Regions from separate parts of the Homo sapiens genome. Here region 2 is reported to be linked to region 1. Evidence: microRNA targets listed by miRTarBase, many of them from high-throughput screens and not tested one by one. Region 1 holds a microRNA gene; the other region holds the end of a gene's coding sequence.

Evidence for each region. Region 1 holds the annotated microRNA hsa-miR-520d-3p (AAAGUGCUUCUCUUUGGUGGGU, at 3,093-3,114, shown strand). A microRNA usually pairs through its seed, bases 2 to 8, with sites in the 3' UTR of a target mRNA and lowers its output. Matches are read on the target gene's strand: a 7mer-m8 pairs with bases 2 to 8, a 7mer-A1 pairs with bases 2 to 7 and ends in A, and an 8mer does both.
Region 2: the mRNA of SLC35H1 is a reported target of hsa-miR-520d-3p. The part of its 3' UTR that is shown has no 7-base or 8-base seed match.

The regions. Positions count from the first base shown.
Region 1 is chr19:53,717,057-53,721,042 of GRCh38, forward strand. MIR520D (microRNA 520d) reads left to right here and starts at 3,040; the gene lies at 3,040-3,126. It also overlaps the pseudogene RNU6-803P.
Region 2 is chr20:46,347,968-46,351,822 of GRCh38, reverse strand. SLC35H1 (solute carrier family 35 member H1) reads left to right here. Exons shown (of 10, transcript NM_015945.12): 9 at 933-1,062; 10 at 1,299-3,855. The coding sequence ends at 1,429. Among named protein-coding and RNA genes, the nearest start is that of SLC35H1, 15 kb to the left of the region's middle. RefSeq lists enhancers at 189-248, 259-398, 1-543 and a silencer at 659-953.

The DNA of each region.
Region 1 (3,986 bases):
AGGCTGGAGTGCAGTGGCAGCCTTTGCCTCTTGGGTTCAAGCAATTTTCCTGCCTCAGCCTCCCAAGTAGTTGGAATTATATGTGTCACCATCATGCCCTTTTTGTTTTTTTTTAGTAGAAAATGGGTTTCACCACGTTGGCCAGGCTAGTCTCAAGCCCCTGACCTCAAGTGATCCTCCCGCCTCAGACTCCCAAAGTGCTGAAAATGCAGGCGTGAGCCACTGCACCGAGCCATCAACACCTTCTACTCCATGGAAATGATACTGGCGCTGGTTTATAGAACCTCACTTGGGGTCGGGCAGATTTAAAAGGGACCTCAGGCTGGGTGTGGTGGCTGACGCCTGTAATCCCAGCACTTTGGGAGGCCGAGGCGGGTGGATCACGAGGTCAGGAGATCGAGACCATCCTGGCTAACATGGTGAAACCCTGTCTCTACTAAAAATACAAAAAATTAGCCAGGCGTGGTGGCGGGTGCCTGTAGTCCCAGCTACTCGGGAGGCTGAGGCAGGAGAATGGTGTGAACCCGGGAGGCGGAGCTTGCAGTGAGCCGAGATGGCACCACTGCACTCCAGCCTGGGCGACAGAGCAAGACTCTGTCTCAAAAAAATAAATAAATAAATAAGGGGGTGGGGGACCTCATTGTCCCTTGCAGATGGGATGTGCCCTGCTTAGCAAGAGCACGGAGGTGGAGTGCATGGCTTTGAGTTTTCACTGGGGCACGGAGGTGGAGTGCATGGCTTTGAGTTTTCACTGGGTAAATGCAGCTGAACTCTTGGCTGCACGACCAGGTCATATGTGCAACGAGACAGGGGTCTCACTATGCTGCCCAGGCTAAAATGGGCTTAGGTCCTTTTGCCTCCACCTCTCCCCAGTCCTTAGTAGCTGGGACTACATGTGAATATTAACCATGCACAGGCAAGAGGAAAGAAAGGACCGTTCTTTGGTTCACACCTAGCCGCCAGTCAAATTAGTATTTTAGATGAAGACTGCATTTGAGACATACTTGAACAACAAATGATTTGCTGTTTAGGTGTGGGCATCTTTCTTTTTTCCTAGTTTTAATAATGGCACCAGGCAGAGTACAGTGGCCCACGCCTGTAATTCCAGCACTTTGGGAGGCTGAGACAGGAGGATCACCTGAGGTCGGGAATTTGATTCCAGCCTGGCCAACATGGTGCAGCCCCATCTCTACTAAAAATACAAAATTAGCCCAGCATGGTGGTGGTATATGCTTGTAATCCCAGCTACTCTGGAGGCTGAGGCAGGAGAGTCGCTTGAAGCTGGAAGGCTGATCTTTCAATGAGCTGAGATCACGCCACTGCACTCAAGCCTCGGCAAAAAGAGTGAGACTCCATCTCAAAAACATAAAAAATAGGCCAGACACGGTGGTCCACTCCTGTAATCCCAGCACTTTGAGAGGCCAGGACAGGCGGATCTCCTCAGGTCAGGAGTCCAAGACTAGCTGGGCAAACAAGGCAAAACCTCGTCTATACTAAAATTAGGAAAAATGGCTGGGAACAGTGGTGGACACCTGTAATCTCAGCTACTTGGGAGGCCACGGCAAGAGAATCTCTTGAACCTGGGAAAAGGAGATTGCAGTGAGACGAAATCACACCATTGTACTCCATCCTGGGTGACAGAGTGAGATTCTGTTTCAAAAATTAAATAAATAGGCCGAGCACAGTGACTCATGCCTGTAATCCCAGAACTTTGGGAGGCCGAGGTGGCGGATCACCTGAGGTCGGGAGTTCAAGACCAGCCTAACCAACACGTAGAAACCCCATCTCTACTAAAAATACAAAATTAGCCGGGCATGGTGGCGCATGCCTGTAATCCCAGCTGCTCGGGAGGTTGAGGCAAGAGAATCACTTGAACCCCAGGGGGCGGAGGTTGTGGTGAGCCGAGATTGTGCCATTGTATTCCAGCCTGGGCAACGAGTGAAACTCTGTCTCTAAATAAATAAATAAAACTATTAAATAAACATTAAACGTTAAAAAATAAAAATAGATAAATATGAGATCATCATGAATTTGAGTGTCACCTTTGCGCAGGGCCCATGGTAATCTTTGTCATTCCAATTTTTTCATGCGTGCTGCCAAAGCTAGCACTTGTGTGTAGGAAGTATTCTTCCTGTGAGCATACAATATATGGAAGTTTCTTTTATTATTATTATTTTTTATGTTTTTGCGACTGAGTTTTGCTCTTGTCGCATAGGCTGAAGTGCAATGGTGTGATCTGGGCTCCCTGCGATGTCCACCTCTTGGGTTAAAGCGACTCTCCTACCTCAGCCTCCTGAGTAGCTGGGATTACAGGCATACACTTCCAGGGCTAGCTAATTTGTTGTATTTTAGTAGACGGGATTTCTCCATGTTGGTCAGGCTGGTCTCAAACTCCCGACTTCAGGTGATCTGCCCACCTTGGCTTTCCAAAGTACTGGGATTGCAGACAGCCACCGCGGCTGGCCTTCATATATTCTTATATATATAATATCATGTACACACAAAAGACTCTTTTACACCCTGAGAATACTCTTATATCACTTTGGGCATTTTTTTGTTGGTGTGTGCATTTTTTGTTTGTTCGTTCGTTTGTTTTTGAGACAAGATCTGGCCCTGTCACCTATGCTGGAGTGCAGTGGTGTGATCTCGGCTCCCGGCAACCTCAACCTCCCACCTCAGCCTCCTGAATTAGTGTCTACAGGCATGCACCTCTATACCTGGCTAACTTTTGTATTTTTACAGATGAGGTTTTACCATGTTTCCCAGGCTGGTGTCTAACTCCTGAGAATATAAGGTATATGTAGTAGGCGTTGCTTTTTCTCTTTGAAGACAAAACCCAGGACAGTTGTCCCTCGATGAACAAGGCTAACCTGCTGAACGTTTGAAGCAAGGAACTGGAGATGGTCTTTGTATCGGTTTATGTTCTAGATTCCAGAAAATATGCAAACAGGACCAATAAATGCATCTTTATTTTTGTGTCCATTTTGACCAGGTCAAGGAAAATTTCAACAAGAAACCCAGAGTGCCGGAGCAAGAAGATCTCAAGCTGTGAGTCTACAAAGGGAAGCCCTTTCTGTTGTCTAAAAGAAAAGAAAGTGCTTCTCTTTGGTGGGTTACGGTTTGAGAAAAGCAACGTTGAAGTTGATGCTGATTTCGGTAATACATTTGCAGAGCATGCTTATCACACTTGGACGATGGTGGGGTTCTGTTTTGGTTTTGCTTTTTTATTCTAAGGCTCTGTGTTGCTCATGCTGGAGTGCAGTGACATGTCCAATATATCTCTTGGCTTCAAATGGTCAGCCTGGGCAACACAGGGAAATTCTGTCTCAAAAAATAAACAAATGAATAAAAATACAAAATAAAGCCGGGCATGGTGGCTCATGCCTGTAATCCCAGCACTTTGGGAGGCCGATGCAGGTAGATCATCTCAGGTCAGGAGTTTGAGACCAGTCTGACCAACGTGGTGAAAATCCGTCTCTACTAAAAATACAATAACAACAAAAATTAGCCCAGTGTGGTGGTGGGCACCTGTAATCCCAGCTACTTAGGAGGCTGAGGCAGGAGAATTGCTTGAACCCGGGAGGCAGAGGCTGCAGTGAGCCGAGATTGTGCCACAGCATCCAGCCAGGATGACAGAGTGAGATTCCGTCTGAAAAAAAAAAAAAAAAAAAAAAGCTGGGCGCTGTGGCTCACGCCTGTAATCCCACCACTTTGAAAGGCCGAGGCGGGTGGATCACGAGGTCAGGAGATCGAGACCATCCTGGCTAACACGGTGAAACCCCATCTCTATTTAAAAATACAAAAAATTAGCGAGGCGTGGTGGTGGGTGCCTGTAGTCCCAGCTACCCGGGAGGCTAAGGCTTGAGAATGGCTTGAACCCAGGAGGCGGAGCTTGCAGTGAGCCGAGATCGTGCCATTGCACTCTAGCCTCGGCAACAGAGCAAGACTCCGTCAAAAAGAAACAAAAACAAAAACAAAAAAAAGAA
Region 2 (3,855 bases), not on the chromosome of region 1:
AGATGGAGAGCCGCCCCTCCCCAAGGGCACAGCAGGGGCCTCAAAGCCAGCTCTGACTCTGCTAGGCCTGGAATGCATTCACATTTTACCTTGACTGCCAACTCTGGCACTGGGCAGTGGCCTGGAGCCACAGGTTGAACAGCCCCTATCCAGACTCATCAGGAAAGAGTTCCGTGATTGACTGGCGGTGTCCTCCAAGGCCATGGCCAGGGCTAGTGAGACCCTGAGAAAGCACCCCTGTGGCCAGCCTTGCTGTACCTCTGCCTCGCAGGCCTGTCCTTCCCTCTCATACCTCTTCTCACTTCTCCTTCTCCCTCCCACACATTTCAACAGTCCTCCCTGTTCAGGGGCAGGGAGGGACTTTTCTCTTTGGCCAGGCACACACCAGTGTTGAAGCAGTGTTGCCTAAACCCAGAAATGCAGGCCTGTCCAAGGGTCTTCTGGTGGCCAGCCGCATGCTGAGGCATGGCTGTGGTTCTTGGATGAACGGCCTTGCCAGTCCTGTTTGGAGTCTCTGTTTATAGAGAGCCCCGGGACCAGTTGTGTCTTCAGTCCGGGGTAACACAGCATTCTCACACATAGGCTCAGGGCTCTCTTCTGTGGCTGCCTTCTGGGGCAGCCGTCCTTTATCCTTGTGGATAAGGCGCGATCTGGACACCCTGGTCCCCAGCCTGGGATCTGGTTTGCCTCTTTTATTCCTGACAGAATTCCATGACAAGCACCTCCTTTGTTGCATCTCACAAAAGGAGGCTGGCGGGACAGCGCCGCAAGCCGGCCGGGTCCCCTGACCTCTCTGCCTGCCTGGGCCCAGGATTTCAGTAAGATCTTGATCTGCCCACCTGAGTGTACCTAGTGCCCCCACCTTCCACCCTCCTGGTCAAGCAGCCAAATCTGCCTGTTGATCATGCTCCCTCCTGCTTCTCTGCCCCCAGGAAGTCTGCACTTTGCTGTTGGCAGCTCATCTGCTGGGCGATCAGATCAGCCTCCTGAACTGGCTGGGCTTCGCCCTCTGCCTCTCGGGAATATCCCTCCACGTTGCCCTCAAAGCCCTGCATTCCAGAGGTAACCCAGAGTCCCTTCCAGAAGCCTCTGTTTTCTGTTCTTCTCCCTGTGACTCTTAGTGATTCTGATGCAGGAAGTGTGCCCGGTGGCTCTGCTGCCGTCACTCCTCTAGGAAGATGTGGGGGTCATCTCCAGAGTGGGTGGGTGGGGCCTGGGTGACTCAGCACACATGCAAATCAGAGCAAACCAAGAAAACCACGACTGGGCCTGTAACTGTGGTCTCTCTCTATCCCAAGGTGATGGTGGCCCCAAGGCCTTGAAGGGGCTGGGCTCCAGCCCCGACCTGGAGCTGCTGCTCCGGAGCAGCCAGCGGGAGGAAGGTGACAATGAGGAGGAGGAGTACTTTGTGGCCCAGGGGCAGCAGTGACCAGCCAGGGCAAATGGCTTAGAAGCAGGCCACTCCCCAGCCTGCTGCCAGCACTCACTGTGCTCAAGCCGCCAGGGCTCATCATGGTAGCTGGGAGCTGTGGACGGGAGTCACCAGGTGGTGGGGCCAAGCCAGGGACTCATGACTTTTGCCCCTCCCTTCAGAGCCTGGTCACACAAGGGGCGAGCACCAGGCCAGCCTGGGACTGGCCAGAGCTGGGCCCAAGCTGCGCTGGAATCGCAGCAGGAGAGGGGAGTGGGCTGGTTCTTCCCACCACTTCCCAGGCTCTGACAGCCGAGACTCATTTCCAAGGCACAGCAGCTTTCTAAAGGGACTGAGTTTGGACTGGGTTTTGGACCTCCAGGGGCTGGAGCTTCATCACCTGGGCAGTGTCTTTTCTCAGAGAGCAGGTTTCTTTATAGTTTGGAAATAAATGGTTCACGGTCCACTGGCCGCCTTGTGTTGCTGGAGACGTGGGGGCAGGGAGGGGACAGTGTGGGCCTGGCCTCTCCTTTCCTTTCCCTGCCTGGAGCCTTCTTCAAATGTCTGGTCTTAAGCCAGGCCTCCTTCATTTTCTCGCTCCTGTTAGAACACCAGTCCCCTCCCCAGTGGGGCCCCACTGCACCTGCTGGCAGGAAATAAATGAATGTTTACTGAGTACTGCATTCTGGAGACCTTACATGTTTTCACAGCCTAGTTTGAATACTGGCTTTGTCACTAGCTGTGTGACCCTAAGCAAATGACCTAACCTGTCTGTGCCGTAGTTTTTTAATCTGTGAAATGGGGATAATGTCTATCTCAGAGTCCTTTTGAAGATTGAGTCATTATTAGTAACAGATTAAATGTTATATAAGCATTTCTTTTAATCCTTTTAACAACTAAGAGACTAAAGCCTGGAAAAGATAAAGAGCTGCTTAAGTGGCCGGGCTGAGGTTCACATCCAAGTCTGTGTACGTCTGTGTGTGCACGTGCTGCACGTGACATCCACACAGCCTCCTGGAACTTCATGGGCCCCTGGGGCTTGGGCTTTCCACTCCTCCTTGGCCAAGTCCCACGTCTTCTCTAGACTGCAGGCCTCTCTCAAATGAGGAAGGGAGGGGGCAAGACCCCAGCTCTGATGTGCTGTGGACTGAGTCTACTCCTGTAAACTGGTTCCCGGGCCATGGGAGACCCCCCCGGCCCTTGGGGACAAAGCTTTCCAGGCGAAGTGCTCCTAGGCACTCACAGCAGGTGGCGCCATTGCACCACACTGGCTCCCAGAGCCCAGCTGCCCTGCCACGGCTATCCAGACACCGGCAGAAAAGGGGTGCTTGGAAGAGGACAGTGGGTATCCATGGGTGGGGACAAGGATAGGGCTTGTTCTAAAATTGTTTCCATCAGGTTGGAGTCACTAAAGCTCGTTCGGTTAAGCCCAGGAGAACTTTAATACTTTAAAAATGGGTCTGCAAACTTCCTGTAAAGGGCCAGATAGTAAATATTTGGGGTTTGGGGACCATATGGCGTCTGTTGCAGCTACTCTGCCATCGTAGCACAAAAGCAGCCATAGATGACACAGACCCAGGGTGTGGCTGTCCCAGTGAAACCCCATTTACAAAAGTAGGATCCAGCTTGCTGGCTGAAGTTTACCAGCAGGAGAACCCTCAAGAATTCTCGAGTCCAACTTCCACTTCTGCAGCAGGAGACTGAAGCCAGGAGGGGGCGGTGACTAGCCCGAGGCCCTCAGAGCCTCCGTGCTCAGGAGTCAGACCGAGATCTGCCTCTAATTCAGATTCCCAGCACAGACTCAGCAGGCGGAGGTGGAGCACCAAGGGCGCTTGGAAGCGGCCTCTTATCTGGCTCCTGCACCTCTGCCCCCCTTGGATTCCGCAAGCTCAGAGGCCAAGATTAAAGGAGGCTCGTGCTCCAGCTGGATGATGTGGGAAGAGCCAGCCAAGGAGGGGGGCCAGGGCCTCCTCCGTCTTAGAGGCTGCTTGGGATGCAGGCTGCTTGGGCGGCAGGGGGAGTCTGCCAGAGCCCCGCTGGCTCAGGTGGATGAGAGCTTCCTGTCTGCTCCCCCACTGCCCGCCTCCCAGCACAGGGAGCAAGCGTTGCTGTCTGGTGCAGTAATTACAAGGTGCAGAGCGGGGGCCCTTACCTCGCACATGTTGGGTTCAATGACAGCCCTTCATTTAGCAGCAATTACCAGCTGAACCTAAAGGAGGGCTCCCTCTCCTCCCCCACCCAGCCCACCCAATCGCCTGGCCTCCCAGGCCAGACAGCGTCCACCTCGGCATTGAGCCCTAGAACCACCCATGCTGTCTGCAGCCATTGCATCTCAGGGCTGCAGCATCACCATGGCAACGCGGTGCTTGCACAGGTTGAGGGGAAGCTGAGGATGTGACTTGTCTCTCCAAGGCTGTGGTGTCTGTCCCCACACAGCCCCAGCT